Linked DNA regions of Homo sapiens: regions 1, 3 and 4 are each linked to region 2. Evidence: fine-mapped expression QTL. A gene starts in region 2. Each other region holds a variant in brackets. All regions are shown on one strand. Distances are between the middles of the regions. Region 1 has its middle 160 kb from the start of UST. Region 2 holds the start of UST (uronyl 2-sulfotransferase). Region 3 overlaps UST (uronyl 2-sulfotransferase). Region 4 has its middle 150 kb from the start of UST.

Region 1 (5,528 bases), 160 kb after region 2:
CTCAGAGCTTGAAGACTACCTTTCTGAAATAAGACAGGCACACAAGAATAGAGAAAAAAGAATAAAAAGGAACAAACAATACCTCTGAGAAATATGAGATTATGTAAAAAGACCAAACCTATGACTGATTGGGGTACCAGAAAGAGACAAGGAGAATGGAACCAAGTTGGGAAACATACTTCAGGATAGTATCCAGGAGAACATCCCCAACCTAGCAAGACAGGAAAACATTCATATTCAGAAAATGCAAAGAATCCCAGTAAGATGCTCCATGAGAAGATCTACCCCAAGACACATAATCACCAGTTTCTTCAAGGTCGAAATGAAAGGAAAAATGTTAAGAACAGCCAGAGAGAAAGGCCAGGTCACCTACAAAGGGAAGCCCATCAGACTAACAGTGGACCTCTCAGCAGAAACCCTACAAGCCAGAAAAGACTGGGGGCCAATATTCAACATTTTTAAGGAAAATAATATCCAACCCAGAATTTCATCTCCAGCCAAATTAATCTTCATAAGTGAAGGAGAAATAAGATCCTTTTTAGACAAGCAAGTGCTCAAGGAATTGATCATCACCAGACATGCCTTGCAAGAGTTCCTGAAGGAAGCACTAAATATGGGAAGGAAAAACTGTTAGCAGCCACTACAAAAGCACACTGAAGTACACAGACCAATGACACTATGAAGCAACTACATAAACAAGTCTGCAAAATAAACAGCTAGCATCATGATGACAGGATCAAATCTACACATAATAATACTAACGTTAAATGTAAATGGCCTGAATCCCCCAATTAAAAGACATAGAATGGCAAGCTGGATGAAGAACCAAGACCCATCAGTATGTTGTCTTCAACAGACCCATCTCACATGAAAAGACACACATAGGCTCAATATAAAGGGATGGAAGAAAATTTACTAAGCAAATGGAAAACAGAAAAAAGCAGGGGTTCCACTCCTAGTTTCTGAAAAAAACAGACTTTAAACCAACAAAGATAAAAAAAAGACAAGGGCATTATATAATGTTAAAGGGTTCGATTCAATAAGAAGAGCCAACTATCCTAAATATATATGCACCCAATACAGAAGCACCCAGATTTATAAAGCAAGTTCTTAGATACCTTCAAAGAGACTTAGACACCCACACAAGAATAGTGGGAGACTTTAACACCCCATTGACAATATTAGACAGATTATCAAGGCAGAAAATTAACAAAGATATTCAGGACCTGAATTCAGCTCTGGATCAAGTAAACCTCATAGATAGCTACAGAACTCTCCACCCAAAACCAACAGAGTAAACATTCTCCTCATCACCACATGACACTTATTTTAAAATTGGTCACATAATCAGAAGTAAAACACTCTTCAGCAAATGCAAAAGAACTGAAATCATAACAAATAGTCTCTCAGACCACAGCACCATCAAATTAGAATGCAAGATTAAGAAATTCAGTCAAAATCACACAACTGCATGGAAATGGAACAATCTGCTCCTGAATGACTCTTGGGTAAATAATGAAATTAAGGCAGAAACCACGAAGATCTTTAAAACTAATGAGAGCAAAGATAAAACATATGAGAATCTCTGGGACATAGCTAAAGCAGTGTTAAGAGGGCAATTTATAGCACTAAATACCTGCATCAAAAAGCTGGAAAGATCTCAAATTGACAACCTAACATCTCAACTAAAAGAACTAGAGAACCAAGAGCAAACAAACACCAAAACTAGCAGAGGACAAGAAATACCAAGATCAGAGCTGAACTGAAGGAGATAGAGACACGAAAAACCCTTCAAAAAATCAAGGAATCCGGGAGCTTTTTTTCTGAAAAAATTAATAAAATAGACCACTAGCGACACTAATAAAGAAGAGAGAATATTCAAATAACACAACCAGAAATGATAAGGGGGCTGTCATCACTGACCCCACAGAAATACAAACAACCATCAGAGAATACTATAAACACCTCTATGCACATAAACTAGAATATCTGGAAGAAATGGATAAATTCCTGGACACATACACCCTCCCAGGACTGAGCCAGGGAGAAACTGAATCCCTGAATAGAAACAATAATGAGTTCTGAAATTGAGGCAATAATAAATAGTCTACCAACCAAAGAAAGCCCAGGAGGTACAAAGAAGGATTCTATCAGAGGTATAAAGAAGAGCTGGTACCATTTCTACTGAAACTATTCCAAAAAAATTGAAAAGGAGGGACTCCTCCCTAACTCTATGAGGCCAGCAGCATCCTGATACCAAAACCTGGCAGATTAAAACCAAAGAAAAGAAATGAAAAGAAAACTTCAGGCCAGTGTTCTGATGAACATCAATGCAAAAATCCTCAATAAAATACTGGCAAACTGAATCCAGCAGCTCATCAAAAAACTTATCCACAACAATCAAGTAGGCTTCATTCCCAGGATGCAAGTTTGGTTCAACCTACAGAAATCAATAAATGTGATTCATCACATAAACAGAACTAAAGACAAAAAACACATGATTATCTCAATAGATGCAAAAAAGGTCTTTGATAAAGTTCAACATCCCTTCATGTTAAAAACTCTCAATAAACTAGGTATCGAAGGAACATAACTCAAAATAATAAAAGCCATATATGACAAACCCACAGCCAATATCATACTGAATGGGCAAAAGCTGGAAGCATTCCTTTTGAAAACCAGCACAAGACACAGATGCCCGTCTCTCACAACTCCTTTTCAACATAGTATTGGAAGTTCTGGCCAGGAAAATCAGGCAAGAGAAATAAATAAAGCGTATTCAAATCAGAAGAGAGAAAATCAAACTATCTTTTTTTGCAGATGACGTAATCCTATATCTAGAAAACCCCATTATCTCAGCTCAAAGGCTTCTTAAGCCGATAAGCAACTTTGGCAAAGTCTCGGGATACAAAATCAATGTGCAAAAATAGCTAGCATTCCTATACACCAACAACAGGCAAGTAGAGAGCCAAATCATGAATAATCTCCCATTTACAATTGTCACAAAAAGAATAAAATACCTAGGAATACAGCTAACAAGGGAAGTGAAGTTCTCCTCTTCAAGAACTACAAACCACTGCTCAAAGTAATCAGAGATGACACAAACAAATGGAAAAACATTCCATGCTCATGGAAAGAAAGAATCAATATCGTGAAAATGGCCATACGGTCCAAAGCAATTTATAGATTCAATGCTGTTCCCATAAATTACCATTGACATTCTTCACAGAATTAAAGAAAACTATTTTAAAATTTATATGGGACCCAAAAAGCTCCCAAATAGCCAAGACAATTCTAAGCAAAAATA[A/G]CAAAGCTGGAGGCATCACACTACCCAACTTCAAACTATACTACAAGGCTACAATAACCAAAACAGCATGGTACTGGTACAAGAAGACCAATGGAACAGAATAGACACATAGACCAATGGAACATAATAGAGAACCCAGAAATAAGACCGTACACCTACAACCATCTGATCTTTGACAAATCTGATCAAAACAAGCAATGAGGAGAGGATTCCTTATTTAATAAGTGGTATTGGGAGAACTGGCTAACCATATGCAGAATATTGAAACTGGACCCCTTCTTTATACCATATACAAAAATGAACTCAAGATGGATTAAAGACTTAAATATAAAATGTACAACTGGCTGGGCATGGTGGCTTACACTGGTAATCCCAGCACTTTGGGAGGCAGAGGCAGGTGGATCACCTGAGGTTGGGAGATCGAGACCAGCCTGACCAACATGGAGAAACCCTGTCTCTACTAAAAATACAAAATTACCTGGGCGTGGTGGCCCATGCCTGTAATCCCAGCTACTCGGGAGGCTGAGGCAGGAGAATCACTTGAACCCGGGAGGTGGAGGTTGCAGTGAGCCAAGATCGCGCCATTGCCCTCCAGCCTGGGCAACAAGAGTAAAACTCCATCTCAAAAACAAACAAAAAAACAAACAAAACCTAAAATTATAAAAACTCTAGAAGAAAATCTAGATAATACCATTCAGGACATAGGTATAGGCAAAGATTTCATGACAAAGACACCAAAATCAATTGCAACAAAGCAAAAATTGACAATGGGATCTAATTAAACTAAAGAGCTTCTGCACAGCAAAGGAAACTATCATCAGAGTGAACAGACAACCTATAGAATGGGAGAAAATTTCTGCAATCTATCCATCTGACAAAAGTCTAACATCCAGCATCTACAAGGCACTTAAACAAATTTACAAGAAAAAAACAAATAATCCCATTAAAAAGGACATAAACAGACACTTCTCAAAAGAAGACATACATGCAAAACATAGGAAAAAAAGCTCAACATCACTGATCATTAGAGAAATGCAAATCAAAACCCCAATGTGATACCATCTCAAGCAAGTCAGAATGAAGATTATTAAAAAGTCAAAAAACAACAGAATGCTGACAAGGTTGTGGAGAAAAAGGAACACTTTTACACTTTTGGTGAGAGTGTAAATTAATTCAGCCTTTGTGGAAGACAGTGTGGTGATTCCTCAAAGACCTAGAGGCAGAAATACCATCTGACCCAGCAATTCCATTACGGGGCATATACCCAAAGGAATATAAATTATTATAAAGATACATGCAATAATTGTATGTTCATTGCAGCACTATTCACAATAGCAAAGACATGGAATCAACCAAATGCCCATCAATGATAGACTGGATAAAGAAAATGTGGCACATATACGCCATGGAATACCATGCCACCATAAAAAGGAATGAGATCGTGGTTTTTGCAGGGACGTGAATGGAATTGGAAGCCATTATCCTCAGCAAACTAATGCAGGAACAGAAAACCAAGTATTTCATGTTCTCACTTATAAGTGGGAGCTGAATGATGAGAACACATGGATACATGGTGAGGAACAAAACACAACTGGAGCTTGTCAGAGGGTGTGAGGTGGGAGGAGGAAGAGCATCAGGAAGAATTGCTAATGGATGCTGGGCTTAATACCTAGGTGATGGTATTTCTGGTAGTTAGGCATGAGTGGATCAGGAGAGGGCTCTTTTCCACCCACTGGGAATGTCGAGTGATGGTTTGGCAGTTATCACATTGCCTTTCTAAAAGCAATGAATTGGAAGCCAGTGCCAGGAAGGAGCCATTTCCTGATGGTCAACACCTGCCCAACTAAAGTGCTAATTGGATTCATATGCCAGGGAGAAACAACTTCCCAGCACATGCATTAAGACAAAATGGTGGAGTATGACCTTCCGAGGGCATACCGCCAGCAAAGGGAAGAAAGTCTCAGATGGTCATGCGTACAACTTCCTAACCACACTGTACGTGCTCTCCTCCCAACGGTAAGGAGGGCACTGTGCATGCTGGCAGCCCACCCTAAGGGAAGAATCATGGGAAAGGGGCCAGCCTGGAAAGTCCTAGGATCAAGGTTAAACAGAGCACTTGATCTGAGTGCCCACTTGGGTCTCTTCCAAGCATAGTTTTCTTTCTTTCTTTCCTGTTCTAAAGCCTTTTAAAATAAACTTCCGCTCTTGTTCTGAAACTCGC
Region 2 (5,528 bases):
TTTCCTGAGCAGAAGCTGAGAATTCACCCTTCTACCAACTGACCACCCAAATTTATTAGGCCTCATTGTTTGGAAATATAAAGTGAAAATGTTAATGCAATATATGTTGAAATGTCTTGATTTTATCCTCAGTAGTACCTTTGCTCCTTCCTCCTCCCAGAATTTCCCTTCCTCAAGAAAGGTGTCAGAACCCCAAAACTTTAGGAGCTGGGTGGAGGTTTCATTGACAGTCAGGTGTGGCTTCTAATTCTGCCATGAAACACCAGGCCTATGAAGTCTGAGTACCCTACACGAGGCCAGGTGCTTTGAGGACAATGAGCACAGATGACTTCCATCCTGGTCCATTACACTTTTCCCTACACCCCTGGCCTCCATCTATTACTTAAAAAGAACTTCCACAAGAATTCACTGTCAGATTTAATGGAGAAAGACCCTGAGCCTCAACGCTTGCCTCCCAATGCCTGTTAACAGGGATTGCTGCTGGTGATGAAAATACTGTTAACTTTTGTGGCACTAGCAGGTGTCAGAGAGTGGAGGAAGCTATGAGACTCCACAATACAGAACTTATGAAAAGAAGAGGTTTGATTCCCTAATAAAGGATATATTGCCCCAAATCCTCTATGAAACCAAATGCTATGGAAATCTACTTGGGCCAACTTTTCCTGTAATCTGTAGTTCCCCAAAGTTTATAAAGAAATAAAAGTGTAACTTTTAAAATATGAGGTCTTGTACAAGGTAAAGAATATTATTTTATCCACATCTACATTTCCAAATGCCCTAACACATTTGTAACTTGGCTGATGTGGTTTTGTTTTTGTTTTGCTTTGTTTTGTTTGTTTGTTTTGGGTTTTTTTTTTTTCCTTTTCTTTTCTCTTTTCTCCAAACGGTCTACTATCTAGACCTGTGGCTTCTGCCACGAAGTGACGTTTGGGGTAACTGTGGCAGCCTCCAGCTGGCCCGGGTCATTTGGCCCATTTTCTTTCCAGCACTTCGGTGGCTCTGCTTCCCCGCACTCGCTCTCATCGTGCAGATGCTCAGGCTTATCACTTCGGATGCTTGCAAGAAGCTGGAGCTCTCCCAGCCTTCACCCCCGCACGACCTCTTCTGGCCACAGACTTGGGAGGGATCTGCATCCTCCCTTGGCTCGAACGCGAGTGCCAGCATCGTCCTTGCGACCTGGGCTTGCGCTCGCCTGTCCCTGGCACCCCTGGCTCCCGCAGCCGAGACGAGGGAGCTGCGGGGTCACGCCTTCTCGCTGGAGCGGCTCTTTCCCTCCCGTCAAACCCCTTCCTTACTTCTGCTAAAGACAGGCGGCCTCTCTCCTAATAAACCACACACACACACACACACACACACACACACACACACACACACACACACACACAAGTTTTGACTTGAGCTTGAGACGCACACAGCGCCGAGGATCCTCGGGTTACTGGGGGCGACACTGCTGGCCAGGCTGACCAGCGCCCTCGGGCATCCCCAAACCCCTGGATGCAACCCGTTCCCCGCGCCAGGCTAGCTGCGGGCGGCGGGGTGGGCAGCGGCAGCCAAGGGACAAGCCAGCCCGGGGACAGCGCGGAGCCACTAGGGCCGGCGGGCAGGCGGGGGATCTGCGGGACAGAATTCTCAGAGCGGACGGTGGCAAAGGGCTAAACCCACCCACACTCCCCGGGGCGCGGGACGGGACTGAACTGCGGTCACTAACAATGCAACGAAGAGGACCTTCCCTTCCCTTCGCCACTCCCCGCGCCGCCAGGCCTGAAGATACACACACTCCGGCACACCCCACACACCCATCCACTCCGCCCCAGTCCGGATCCGGGTGGCGGAGGTGGGGCGGGGGGAAGGTGAGCGGTGCCTCGCCCCGGGGTACCTGCCGGCAGCGCAACCCAGCGGCGCCCCCGCCTCGGTGAGGACAGTCGGACGCGCGGGAGGAAGAAGGCGCTCCCGACCGCGGCACAGATGCTCACGGGCTTAGCACCTGGAGAGACCCGGGGCGGCGGCGGCGCGCGGTGGCAGCGCGAGAAGTCCCCGCCGCGACCCTCTCCCCGCCGCACAACTTTGCGCTGTCGGCGCCGCCCTAGCGCCTGCCCAGCTTCCTTACCCAAGTACTGCCGCAGGTCGAGCAGGAAGCGAGGGGGTCCCCCGCTGAGCTGATAGAGGAGGGAGCCCAGGCAGAAGACCAGCAGGGTGGCCATGCAGAAGCCGTAGTCCCGGAGGGAGAAGCGCAGGAAAGGCAGCAGGGGCACCCGACGCTTCCAGCTGCCCAGGCCCGGAGGGGCGCCCCCCATAGGGGCCCCATGGGGCCAGGGATCCGCGCCGCCGCCGGGATGCTGCTGCTTCTTCTTCATCGCCTGCTCCGCTGCCTCCCACAGCCTGCCCGTGCCAGGAAAAGGTCACCCATCCGCCGCGAGGAGGAGAGCCCGGCTGGCCGGCTGCACATGGGGAGGGCCGCGCGGAGGGCAGCCGGGTGGGGGCGGGGAGGGGCCGAAGTTGCCGGGCTCAGGAGACTTTCTTCGGCATGGTCCCCGCCGCCGCGGCCCGAGCGGCCGAGGTGTCCGGCCCCGGTTCGGGGCGCTGCCCGTGACGGGGCGCCGCGCCCGTCCGGCGCCCGCTAGCGTCCCCACGCCCCGCGCCCCGCCGCGCCTCGGGCTCGCTTGCGGCCGCCGGGGCTCGCCTCCAGCGCCAGCGTGGACCCCCCGGCTTTGTGTCTGTAGGTCTCGGCGTGTTTTGTCCCGGTTCAGGCTTCTCTAAAAAACGGCAGGGAGGAACAGGAGGCGGACACCATCCCCTCGCTCCACCTCCTTGACAGGGGTTTTCCTCCTTCTCCTCCCCTTTCTCCCTCCGGCGCTCCGCAGCACTCTCCTCCCTCTCCCCTCCCTCTCCGCTCGGGTCTCGGGATTTCGCTCGGGTGTCACGTTACTGCTTCTGCTGGGGGCGGAGGGGGGGAGGCGGCGATTATTCGCAACAAGGAAGAAAGTTTCTGGGTGTTTTCTTTTTTTTTCCTTCCCCCGTTCTTTACAATCTGGATGCGGTTCCTGCGCCACCAGCGACCTCTTGGGGGCCCCGCTGACTTCCCTCTTGTAAACAGTCACCGGCAGGAAGAAGCACGACTGACTTTACTATTTACATTTTTTTCAGTTCAGAAAGTTGATTCTCCTTATATACCCCGTGCGAGCTGCTTACCCAAGGCTGATAAAAGGTACTAGAATACAGGCTCAAGACTTTGCTGAAATGGGAAAAGAGCAAGCGGTGCGAGTTATGGTCAAACACGCCCCAGAGGGCCAGGCGCAGCGCCTGAACTCCCGGGTAGGGTAGCCGAAGAGGACGCTCTGTTCTTGCTTTTCCTGGTCCTACAACTGCTCCACCTCGCAGTGCCCAGAGAGGCAAGTGGGGGGTGCATAGCGGACTCTAGGAGGTCATTGCCCTGCAGACATGAAGGGGAAAGAGCCCAGTCCGCCTATACGCTGATTTCATTGCTGCCTCTCTTCCCTCCACGGGAAAGCCTCTGGACCTGAAAGAACCTCCTGGGGCAGAAAAGGCTCAATCCTAGACATAGATCCTCTGATGGGGTGGTTGATCCACGGAAGGGCTGCTCTGATCAGCCACACTTTAAGTAAGAATACTATATCACTATTTATAGAAGCTGTAGCACCTGAGGGCTGTGTGACTCACCCGAGGTCCCAAAGCTAGTAGTAGGAGTTGGGTTGGGAGTTGCACTCAAATCTATTTGACCCTCAGACCCACTATACTAACCACTGCACAGCAGTACTTCCCAGCCAGAGCCCTTTTCCTTCACGTCCCATAGGAGGATGAGATTTAATTCATTTAGTTCAGGCCACATTGAGAAATGGAAACCTCAGTTTCTGGTGCCTATCATTTCTGGCTCCCTACTCATTTGTATATTCCAGTAATGAACAATTGGATTTAAGAAGGAACCAGGAGCCAAGAACCTCTATGATTCTAAGACTAGGCTCCTGAAAACCTTCATCAAGTTAGGCATCTGAAGAATATTCTGTGGAAAATTACAAAATATTATCCTAGACAAAGAACTTACTCGTTAAGAATATGTCTTAACCTCAGCTACTCAGGAGGCTGAGGCAGGAGAATCGTGTGAACCCGGGAGGCGGAGGTTGCAGTGAGTCGAGATCGCGCCATTGCACTCCAGCCTGGGCGACAGTGCGAGACACCGTCTCAAAAAAAAAAAAAAAGAAAGAAAAGAAAAGAAAGAAAGAAAGAATGAATATGTCTTAACCATGTTCATATATGAATGTCTCTGGTTCATGATTTGAAACATATATCATGAGCTAGAGAGATGTGTAGATGAGGTGACAGGTGCTGCACACACACAGAGACACACGTACACACACACAACTCTACTGTCCAATTTTACATTGTCCTAGCCCACTTTCTAAGGGATGAGAAGGCTGTTTTGGGGCCCCAAGAGAAAAGAAAATATTTTGTTCTGTGACAGAAAACCCTGAATAGAGTGTTAATCATTTGCTTTACATTTATCTCATGAATCAGGGTTTTATTTGGATTAATATGCACATTTTAGAAATGTGACTTCCCCTAAGAGAATTGAGTAGATCAGTCATTGCCCATTAATGTGAATTACTTTAATCAGTACAATGAGTAGCCCAGAACAGACTCCCAATTAATAACGTTTGAGCTTAAGAAGAGGGACTAGGAGACAGAAGGAGCAAAGCAGTGTTCATAATGTTTCAGGGACCGCCTTCCACAAACTGGACCTGTATCTGAGGCCTGGCCCTGTAATCTGAACACTCGCTGGATATAAAATAGTGTGCAAGACCCTCTGTGTTCACAAGTCCCACCCCCAGGAAGTTCAGAGACTTTTCTCACAGCATGCTGTGGGAAATACCCCAATTTTTTCTCCTAAGGAAAGGAATCTGAGGAACAGGGAGATGGAGCAGGAAGAAAGGAAACAAACATTTGAGAAAATAAGTAAATATGAGAATAAATGTTGTTTTAAAAAACGATGAAAAAGTTGCAAGGAAAGTACAAGGGGGCAAAGTCCAGCTTAGAAGAAACAAGCTATGACATGAACTATTTCAGAGAGAATAAACAGGTCAATCTTTAAAAGATTGTGTTAATAGACTCGCCGCCTAAAAAAACTCACAGAAGAAAAAGAAGAGATATCAAGATACAAAGAAGTTTCACATGGAAAAAAATGCTTTATATTTTCACCCAACAAAAACTTAGTTGTTTGGGTAAAACTTTGTTCTTTGAAGTCCCATAAATATCCCTTCAGAAAAAAAAATTAAATTTAAAGTACTTAGACTAATTAATGGTATCTTTATTCAAAGCAGATAACAAATCTAATTAGAGGAAGTTGTGAACGAATTTTATTATTAGTCTTATAATGAAATATACTTTATTCAGCACCTTGACCTCCATTCAATATCTTTAGCTTCTCAATTCCTTCTCTCTCCAGTGACTCATTTGACCTTGTCCTCACTGATGACTAATTGCATCTCCGAAATCTCCTTTTCCCCCTTCACAAC
Region 3 (5,528 bases), 160 kb before region 2:
ATGATTCAGGTTTATCATCAACAGCCTTTTGTTATGCTGTAAAAATATTTTGTTCTTTTTGAACTAATCCTGATTACAAGATCATTTGTAACTAAAATAAGGGAAAACAGATCTTTCATTGGCACGTTTTGAACTAGATATAGGTAGCTGAAAATATGTTGTCTGCATAACTGAGTAATTCAAATGACTCATGTTCACAGAGTTAAAAAGAGAATTTGATATTAATCATTAAAATATAAAATTATAAATCTAAATTCGTTTAACACACATTCAAAATATAGAAGCCCTGTATTACAATTAAATGGCAAAGAAAAATAATTAAATGTAATAAGCAAAAGAATAACTTCTGTCATTTGGGATAGCAATGGTTGACTTTCTCATACACTAAAATAAAAATATATACCACCAAACGCCCAAGATTTTGAAATGGAAATGATTCTTTTGGTGACTTCGCTAATGTACTAACTGGCTTTGAGTACACAGTAATCACCAAGTGGTTGTTTAGATTTCTGATTAGATGAAACATTATTATTCTAAAAGGGTATTCCAATATATCACCAATTAAAAATATACTATATATACCTACTCAAAATAATTAGTAATGAGAGCCTATTTTTACTAGGAATAAAAACTAGTTAAAACAAACTTTTCTGGCAGATTTAAAATTGATTTGACTCGAGCCAAATGCCACAAAACATATACAATTACACTTAGCTAAAATGAGACCCTGGTCAGGAGTTTGAGACCAACCTGGCCAACATGGTGAAACCATATCTCTACTAAAAATACAAAAATTAGCTGGGCATGGTGGCAGGCACCTGTAATCCCAGCTACTCGGGAGGCTGAGGTAGGAGAATTGCTTGAACCTGCGAGACGGAGGTTGCAGTGAGCCAAGATCGTGCCACTGCACTCAAGGCTGGGTGACAGAGCAAGACTCTGTCAAAAAAAAAAAAAAAAAAAAAAAAAAGCCCTGGAAACACCCTGACATAAATTACAAATGGACAGCTGTTAAAATAATATCTATAAAAATTAGCAATTCAGATCAGTAAAACACAGTTCCCCAATTAGCCACACTGGGGAATTTAAATTAGGTCATGAAATTCGTTAGCACTTTTCCATTCTAGGGCTCTGTACGTATTGCAGAGTTGCAGAATGTTCTCTGCATCGGGGATTTTTACACCCTGAAACTAGTACCTGAGCCAGTGCTAAATAAACCAAAGAAATGACTGAAGGCCATAAGAAAATGGCCACCCTTTTCTTTCTTTGCACTAAGAGGTCCTTGAAATGAGGTGGTTCTCTTTTGTAAAGTAATTGTTCCTACAATCATCTGTCACATTCTTGATCTTTACAGAGAAAAAGGCCCATGTCAGCCTATCTCCCTTCTGAATTATGAATGTCAAATTAGTAGGGCTCATTAAAAGTGCATTTCTCCCCTATGTGTGTTGTGGTATCCCTACAACATATGCTTCCTGAGATCTGGAGTAACATTTAGTATAAGTACACCTCTATAAGGTATCTAGAATGATATTTCCTTGTAGGATATAATTCAGTGTGATCTCCAAACTGTGGTCTGCAATATACTAAATTTCTTATCTTAAATGCAGTACTTTTCAATAAACAACTGCTTTTGATTTTACTTGGATAATTATGGCTGAAAAGTATACTTAAAATAGCATCAATTCCCGTGTTGGCCAGACTGAATACAAGTGAAAACACTAATCCTACCAAACAGAGATTTTTTTTCTCTCACATTATTTGTTGTGTACACGTTAATCTGTTATTTTGTCTTACCGTAATAAAATAAATAAAATATATTCATAATTTTTGCTTTAATCCCATCTGTGGTTAACCAGTTTAGAATAACTTGAAATGGCAACATCAGTGGTCAGAACACACACTTTTGAAGGCTTACATAACTCAAACTCTGCTTGTTGCTGTGACTCCTAGAACCCTTCCTCAGTATTTGCACAGGCATTTATGTGTGCACATCAAACCCACTAACTCATACCATGCCAACAACTGACTAGACTTTCATTAATCCAGGATAGACTAGGCCTGTGCTAAGCATTTTAGATGGTTTCTTTCAATTAATTCTCTCAACAACCCTATCAAATAGGATCCCTTGTACATGAGGAAACAGGACAGCAGAAATTCTGAAATCTGTCCCAAATCACAGTTAGTAAGAGGCAGAGTCTTCAAGTGAATGTAGGTTCACTAAGCTTCAGAAGTTAAGCCCCCAAATACTATACTATCACCTTTCATGACAAAAACCGCAATCACTTTTGCACCAACCTAATACAATGGCAGTCAAGCTAATAACATCTCTCCTCAGTGACCATTGTGTATCTGAACACATTTTGAAACTTTAGAAACATCAATTAGATAACCCTCATACCTTGTCCATTAAGTGCACAGATGACAAGCCCAGATCAGTTACTTTTGCCCACTTTTTGCTATATTCACCCATGATGAAGTTAATTTGTAGCAAACAATCATATTCTAAATCAAAGAACCTGAAATCCTCATAAACTACAGTCTGCACACTTCTCATTATTAATGCCCTGACATACCACTTCACTGGTATATTCTTTTTGGCCAAGGGGAGGAAGACATCTGGTTTTGAAGAGGAAGAAAGAAACGGCAGAAGCATGAAGATCAAAGCCAGGCAGGTAAGTGACTCTGGGCAAGAAGCATCCACCTCTCCAAATCACCTGTGATGCTTCACGTCCTACAGCACCGCGCTAGAGGCACTGCATCATGGAATCATGCTGGATGGGGCTTACGTAACTGACAAGTTCATTCTGGATACCTCTGACTGCCAGATGAAAGGATTCCTCTAGGTACACATAATTAGTACATATCCATTAAGCCAAAAAAGATGTATAAAATATGTTCCATGCCCTTGAGGAATTACAATATAGCTGGGGAGATAACAATATATGCATACCGGTAACAGTATGATGTATAATGATGTGTGCCAGCTATTGTTACAGAAGAATATTATAAGGTCAGAAGTGACATTCTAAGTGCTTTGCAGTTTTGCACACTAAGATCTCTAACAGGAGCCCAAGGCTGCCTTCCTCTTAGAGGAGGTGAAGTCTTAAGATCATATATTCCTCAAGGACAGAATTAGGCTCTGGTGGTAGGAAATGATACGCTCAAAGGATGGCACAAAGGTTTTTCAGGCTGTTTTCCACTTGGCTCCTTCCCTGGGTCTCCTTCTG[T/C]TGTTGGCTGGCTTCACATTGCTCATTTTTCTCTCATGTCCCACACAGCTAGTACAGAAAGTAAATGACTCCCAATTTCCCCTTAATGGGGGCTGGGGAGGGGAAGGGAGCCAATGGGGAGTCTAGGTCTCACCCCAGGGAAAGGCAGAGGGGAAGGTCCAGCTGGTTTTGCTCTACCCTAGGTTTTAGGGGGATACATTGACAATTCTGTTTCCATGGAGTGGAGGAAGGGGAGCTGAAGGTCAAGATGAGGGTGTGAGCCTAGAAGAGAACTGCCAGGGTCTCCACCCAGTCTGCCTTTCACTAGGCTTTAGGCTTCAGGGGCAGAGGAGCCCTGCACATAATCAAACCAGCTTGCCAGAGCAAGAGGCCACATGGGGGTTCATTCGCAGGGTGTCAGGGACCAGGGAAGAGAGAAGTAATGACTCAGAGGTTTGGAAAACAGGCCACTCCATCTGTACCCATCATTGCGAAGCCAGCACCTTATGGCTCCCAAAGCACGTCTAGAAATGTTAACTAGATTTCCTTTTCACAAAAATGTGAATGTGAAGAATACTGGGAAATCATTACTTCCTATTTTATAAGTGAGAAAAACAAAACTCAGAGAGAGAGTACTTGGCTTTGCCAGGATGAGGACTAGGAGGAGTAGGAGCCGGGACTTGGACCAGGATCTTCAAACTCCTGCTGCTGATGCCTTCCCAATATTGAGCTTCTGCCTAGGGCAGCTGCAGGAGGTGGAGGCTTCAAGGAAAGCCTTACAAGATGGGGAATCTGAGCAGGAGCACCCAGTGAATGCTTTGGAGACAAGAACCAAAAATTACTAAATTGGCTGGGTGCAGTGGCTCACACCTGTTATCTTAGCACTTTGGGAGACTGAGGACTTCACTTGAGGTCAGGGGTTCGAGACCAGCCTGTCCAACATGATGAAACTCAGTCTCTACTAAAAACACAAAAATTAGCTGGGTGTGGTGGTGGGTGCCTGTAATCCCAACTACCCAGGAGGCTGAGGCAGGAGAATCGCTTGAACCTGGTAGGTGGAGGCTGCAGTGAACCAAGATTGTGTCACTGCACTCCAGCCTGGGTGACAGAGTGAGACTGTCTCAAAAAAGAAAAGCATTACTAAATTGTAAATAAGAGTCAATAACCACTAAATAATATTCATATTGGAAATAATTTTTGCTAATTTTCTTATTTTATTATATATATAAAATAAGAATGATCTTACTGGATTCAAGAACATCAACTCCAAAATATTAGGCTGTCCCTCTAAACAACATTGCACTTTTCCTAATCTACTGTGGATTCATCATCCATGAATATATATCAACTTTTATAGGAACTGATTTATAGTTTTGGCCTGTACTGTCATTTGGGCAAATGAAGTCCAGCTGTTTACTATCCCCCACAAGAAACAAGATGTCCTTCAATTTGTCTTTGATATATCGTATTTAAGATTTGAGGCACTTTGAGTCTATTTAATTTCAGACCACAGTTGTGTTCAAGGCCTTGGTGAAGAGTTTTGTGTTCACCTCAAACACACTGCTTCTGATTTTATAGGCTTTGATGATTTTCCAGAGTCAATGTCCCTTCTGACAAGAATCATAATTAATTTAGTCTTTGCTTCTACCTCCCAAGATCATTTTGGTTATTAGTTTCTGAATGTTCTCCAGCCAGTTATGCCTCTCTTGGTCTTTGTTGACTAAAACTGCATAGAAACTCTCTGACATAGATAAATCATGGCTTGCACAAGACACTGTTATATTCTGTGCTCCAGGGTGTCCAGTACTTTGACAGCCTCTTTGGGCTGCAGTATTTTCCTGGGAGGAAGCCCCTACATTACAGGTGACAGAGACTCTGAGCTTAGTAGATAGTCCTGTGGTTCAGTAGTACCAGAAAAAATATTAGAGTCACCTGCATATTAGAGTCACCTGCAAACTCAGATTTTTCTGAGCATTTCCTCTTCCGGTCACCAGTAAAAATGTTACAACAAATCAAATACTGAGAAATAGTGCCTGTCTGCACGTCTCAAACTGTCTGTCCCCATTAGTTTTTACCCCTATTAGTTTATAAAATAAAGTTGAATTAAACTAATTCAGCACATGTTCCTGAGTGCAAGATCACAACCCACAAAGGAAACATATTTTCTTGAATAACTGTATGCTTTCAGAAAATTTAAAAATAATATTTTGTTAACATGATAAAGAATATGTATCTTAAACTAAAAATTACAATTATACTCAATGACAGAACATTTTTAATATTATTAAAACTTGAAGCAAAAGAAAGATACTGTCTATAACCATC
Region 4 (5,528 bases), 150 kb after region 2:
TGTTTTGAATAATTTTTAAGAAGCTTTAGTCTGTATCTCATCAAAAAGCATCAAAGCATATTTTGGGAAATAACAAATTACATTATATATTAGATAATTATTGAGATCATGCTATAAAGTAGAGGAAGGCAAGTGTATTAAGTATTTAGAAAGAAAGTATCCATATTTAAAATGCTGCTGATAATGCTGGAGAAATGATTATTAATTGGCAGGCTGAGTACAGGATACTTTTCATGTGTATGAATGAAAGTTCAATCAGGGAAGAGGAATGACAATGAGGATGATGGAATAGGACTTTCTTACAGGGATTAAACCTTACACAAGTGTGGGAGGAGCTGGAAGTAAAGGTCTGACATGAGAGCTGGAGGTTCTGGGAAAATGCCCTATGCAGCCCTCCTGAAGCACTGGGACAGATGGGCAAGTCAGCACTTGCAGGGATTCCGGGAAGCCAGCAGATCCAGATGCTGGAGAGGAAGGACAGTGGAGAGCTGATGGGGAAGTCCAGGCAAGATGTTGCTCCTACACCTGGTGGTGGACCACAGTCGATGCTGGTCAGCAGGGCCAGCTGGCAGGAGGAGGGGCTGAATGCAGAGCAGGGAAGCATGATGACCACTGGCAGTAACTGGCATCTCAGCATCTGTTTTTACTGAGCATGCTTTGGCCAACTTTCTTTTGGCCAATTCTAACTCAGAACCATACTGGGAAGGGAATTCTGTGAAACATAATTCTAACCAGCCGAAGTTAACACAGTATAAAGCCACTGTAGCATAAGATAAAGTTAAGAAACAGGAATAAGATGGGAACTACTCTCCTCAAGCAAGAATAATGGCCAGAGGTGTAACCGTCACTTCATGGTTAAAACAATTAACGCAGATATGAACTCTCCCGCTAAGGTGAATCAGGCTTATTTGGACCTTTCTGTTGGGCCTACATGGGTTTTCTAAAGGCCACAAATCCAGGCATCAATAGGCCTGGCCACAATACAAGCAGCTGAGAGCCAATACTATCCACCACTTCTCTGCATGCCTCTGCAAGTTTGTAACTGTGCAGATGCACGAGTAACAGTTAAGGTCACCTAGTCATTCATTCAGCGTGGATTCATGGAGCATCGATGTGCCAAGCACTGTTCCAGAACCTGCAGCTATGGTAGTGAACGCAGTAGACCCAGTTTCTGCTCCATGTCTGTGAAGGGGATGGGAGATAGGCAATTGTCGATATTTGTCCATACTCTATGTGGGATGGAGGTAAGAGCCATAAATACAAAGAAAGGCTCATGTTGACTTTTTATTATTTGTGCAAATTTATGGGGTACATGTGAAATTTTGTTACATGTATATAATGTATAGTGATCAAATTAGGGTGTCCATCTCCTGGGTGCAATACATTTTTGTTTAACTATAGTCACCCTATTCTGCTATCAAACATTGAATTTATTCCTCCTACGTAACTGTATGTTGGCAGGGCACAATTTTAGAGAGGGATCGGTGATGCTGTTTTAGACACGGCAAGCAAGGAAGGCCTTTTTGAGGAGGAAGTTGATGAAGAATGGAGCTCCGTGGCTCTCTGGGAGGAAGGTCACAGGAACAGATGTGCAAAGGCTCAGACAGTGGAAAATACTTCACATGCTCGAGGAACCCCAGACAAGAGTGACTGGAGCAGCAAGGGTCAGGAGGAGACGGAGAGGATATGAGGTCAGAGACCATGGTTAAGACTTAAAATTTCATCCCAGTGGGAGTGAAAGTCCCCTAAGGGTTTCAGCAGCCACGTGGCCTCCTCTGAATGCAAGGGAAATGGAGCCACTCCTGCCCAGTCAGAGTTAACTGGAGTTTTATGTATGGCTTACACTTGTACCGCTAAGTAGAGGTACAGAGGGAAAATTTGGGCGATAATTTAACTTTTGACTGGATGAAGGCACGGGGGTGTCAGAACGGCTCATTTTTTTCCCTAGATAATTTAGTTTCACAACCATGCCTTGTAACTGGCTGAGGGCCTTATCTGTCAGAAACTTAGCCATCCGGCTCTACAAATGAAATCTCATGAGCTCTCACTCCTCATCTGGAGCCTGGACCCCTCAATGGGGCCCCAGGCAGCAGGGCAACAGCATCATGTCAGCATCATGTCAGCGTCCTGCCACCCCTCTCCATGCAGCAGAAGCAGACGGGAGAAAGGGCGGCGACTCCTGTAGAGAGGGGGCTTAACCCGTGAGCGTGAGAGGCAGTGGTGGAAGTCATTTGCTAAGTCAGAAGAGGCCCAAACATAGGGAAAAGGTCGTGTGAGTATAATTTCAACTTCCACTTCCATTTCACGGCCACATGCCACTTCTCGTAGTCATAACAATGTTAAAACTGGAACAAAATAATCGTTTAGGGAACTTCAAGTCCTATAAATGATCAAACTGTGCTGAGCAGTGCTAGGATTCCACAGAGGTGAC[T/C]CAGGGACACTCTGGAGAATGTCACTGGATGTGAGGAGAAGCCCGTGGGTGGACAGAGGGTCTCCTCCCTTCCAAGCCCTACCCTCTGCTTCCATCTATGCTGGATTGGCTATTTATCTAAGATTTTGCTTCAAGGAAGAGTTTTGGCGCCAAAAAGTAAACAACAACAACAATAACAACCAAAAAAAACAGATTCTGAGATTAATTAGGACTAACTATGTGCCAGGCACTCCACTGAATTTTTTTTTACAAACATTATCTCATTAATCCTCCAATAGCCCTATGAAGTAGATATTATAGTCCTATTAATGAGAAAATTAAGACTTAGTGGAGTTAAGTAAATTTTTCATGTCTCACAGTACTGCAAAGCCAAGATTTGAACCCAGGCCAACTCATCTGACACCTCAACCTCAACTCCTAACTTTTATGCCATCCTGAAAAAAGAAAACCTATCAACCAAGGTTATTCTCATTACCATTCAAGGAAATGTCTTAAAATGTTTAGAATAGCCATTGTGTTCATCTGCTTGGGCTGCCAGAACAAAGTATCACAGACTGCATGTCTTAAACAACAGAAATTTATTTTCTCACAGTTGTAGAGGCTAAGAAGTCCAAGATCAAGGTGCTGGCAGATTTCGTGTCTGGTGAGGACTCCCCTCCTGGATTGCAGATGGCACCTTCTCACAGTGTCCTTTCATGACCTTCCTTGGTGCACACGTGTGCAGAGAGAGAATGCTGATATATTTTCCTCTTCTTAAAAGAGCACCAGGCCAGGCGTGGTGGCTCACGCCTGTAATCCCAGCACTTTGGGAGGCCAATGCGGGAGGATCAAGAGGTCAGGAGATGGAGACCATCCTGGCTAACATGGTGAAACCCTGTCTCTACAAAAAATATAAAAAATTAGCCGGGTGTGGTGGCACGTGCCTGTAGTCCCAGCTACTCGGGAGTCTGAGGCAGGAGAATCACTTGAGCCTGGGAGGCAGAGGTTGCAGTGAGCTGAGATCGCACCATTGCACTCCAGCCTGGGCAACAGAGCGAGACTCCATCTCAAAAAAAAAATTTAAAAAAAGGTACCAGACCTATCAGATTAGGGACCCATATGTGTGACCTCAGTTAATTTTATTACCTTCTCATAGTTGCTATCTCCAAGTATTGTCACATTGAGGATTAAGATTTCAACATAAGAATTTTGAGGATACACAAATATTCAGTCCTTAACAGCCATAAAGGCTAATATAATACTGACACTTATAGAGCTTTCACTATTTAATATATCCTTATGTAGTGCTTACTCTAAGCAGAGCCCTATTCTAAGTGTGAAAATATTGACTCATTTAGTACTTCCAATAGCCCCAGGAGGTAGTTGCTATCAATATTTTCAGATAAGGAAAAGACTGAGGCACAGAAAAAATGATTAATTTGTTCCCTAGTGGTGAGCAGTGATGTAAACCTGTCAAATACTTCACACACACACACACACAAAAAGTTTAATCATCCCTCAGCCTCCCTGGGGGATTGGTTCCACAACTCTGCAGATACCAAAATCCCTGGATGCTCAAGTCCCTGATACAAAATGGCATAGTATTTGCATATAACCTGTGCACATCCTTCTGTATACTTTAAATCATCTCTAGATTACTTATAATACTTAACACAGGCCAGGTGCAATGGCTCACACCTGTAATCCTAACACATTGGGAGGCTGAGGTGGGAAGATGGCCTGAGCCCCAGAGTTTGAGATGGCAGTAAGCTATGATTGTGCTACTGCACTCCAGCCTGGGCAACATAGTGAGACCCCAACTCTAAAAAAAATTTAAATACCTAATATAATGTAAATGTTGTGTAAATAGTTGTTACTGTATATTGTTTCCTATTTGTATTATTTTTTGTTGTTATATTGTTATTTTTGTTGTTGTTGTTTCAAATATTTTCAAGTCAGCATTGGTTGGATCCAAGGATGTGGAGCCCACAGATTTGGAGGGCTGACTATAACTGAGGGATCAGGCTCCTTTCCCACCCATGGCTCCACCTTCTTCAATGGATGCTTCCCATGTCACCATGGAAGGGAAAATAACGTGAGAGGTTCTATGCGTCAGCTCTGGCTTCCTCTCACATTCCATTGGCTAGAACTCAGTCATGTGACCACACCTACCCGTGAGAGAGGCTGGGAAATGCAATCCAGTTGTGCGTCCATGACAAAAAGGAAAACGTTAGGTGAAAAACTCGCAATATCTTCTACTATAAAGACACAATAAGTAATATAAAATATTCTCAATTTATTTGGAGAAAATAACCCAATTTCTGTATTTGATTTTTTTAAGTTGCATATCCAGGAGGGCTAAATGGCAATAGATAATTTTTTTTTTTAAGCAAATGACATTTTCAGAATAGAGTAGCCACATGTCCCAAGACAGAATCCACATCATTTACTGCCTGTGCCAGTGCCATGGCTAGGCAATCTGTGAAAGTCTCCCCTTTGTTTTTCTTCTTTTTCCTGTGTGCACCCCTATTCTTTCCCTCTGAACCTTATTTCCTCCTCCCCACCAGTTTCATTTTCACTTTTGTGTGGTTCCATTCTCACCTGTTTTGGGCATGAATGGACAGGGGCACCACAGACATCACCAGCCCCCCTCACTTTGGTGGCCCTTGAGCTGAAGGAGGAAAAAAAGCTGTTTAGTGGAGCTGAGAGGGGGCTGGGCACAGATAGTGCCTGGTTTGTCCCAGCCCCGACACTTTCCAGCTCTAGTTGACCCAGGACAACTTTGCTGCTCATTTTTCCCACTGGTTAAGGTCCAGGTGTATACAGGAATACGTTGGAGATATTGTGGGTCCTGTTCAAACCACTGCAATAAAGTGAATGTCACAAAAATGCACGTCACAAAAATTTTTTTGTTTTCCCAGTATATCTAAAAGTTATGTTTACACTATACCACAGTTTATTGTGTGCAAAATCATTATGTCTAAGAAAACAATTCACATACCTTAATTTAAAAATGCTTGATTGCTAAAAAATGCTAACAATCATCTGAGCCTTTGACACATTGTAAGCTTTGCCAGTGGAGGGTCTTGCCACAGTGTTGATGGTGGTAATTGTTGCT

What was found.
Region 1: its variant is fine-mapped to the expression of UST in gastroesophageal junction (GTEx, PIP above 0.99). The same link has a PIP of 0.9 or more in breast.
Region 3: its variant is fine-mapped to the expression of UST in cerebellar hemisphere (GTEx, PIP above 0.99). The same link has a PIP of 0.9 or more in cerebellum.
Region 4: its variant is fine-mapped to the expression of UST in esophagus muscle (GTEx, PIP above 0.99). The same link has a PIP of 0.9 or more in fibroblasts, sigmoid colon, subcutaneous fat, sun-exposed skin, transverse colon and visceral fat.

What each region holds. Positions count from the first base shown.
Region 1 is chr6:148,581,140-148,586,667 of GRCh38, reverse strand. No RefSeq gene overlaps it. Among named protein-coding and RNA genes, the nearest start is that of UST, 160 kb to the left of the region's middle. The variant A/G (reference allele first, on the strand shown) is at 3,308.
Region 2 is chr6:148,744,257-148,749,784 of GRCh38, reverse strand. UST (uronyl 2-sulfotransferase) reads right to left here and starts at 2,755. Exons shown (of 8, transcript NM_005715.3): 1 at 2,108-2,755. The coding sequence starts at 2,354. It overlaps LOC124901425 (a long non-coding RNA gene), which reads left to right and starts at 4,186. Exons shown (of 2, transcript XR_007059806.1): 1 at 4,186-5,528. RefSeq lists enhancers at 617-1,116, 1,117-1,618, 2,927-3,006, 3,067-3,126 and silencers at 1,797-1,966, 2,267-2,356.
Region 3 is chr6:148,903,342-148,908,869 of GRCh38, reverse strand. The region is part of intron 2 of UST (uronyl 2-sulfotransferase); the gene reads right to left. Among named protein-coding and RNA genes, the nearest start is that of UST-AS1, 59 kb to the left of the region's middle. The variant T/C (reference allele first, on the strand shown) is at 3,225.
Region 4 is chr6:148,590,106-148,595,633 of GRCh38, reverse strand. No RefSeq gene overlaps it. Among named protein-coding and RNA genes, the nearest start is that of UST, 150 kb to the left of the region's middle. The variant T/C (reference allele first, on the strand shown) is at 2,432.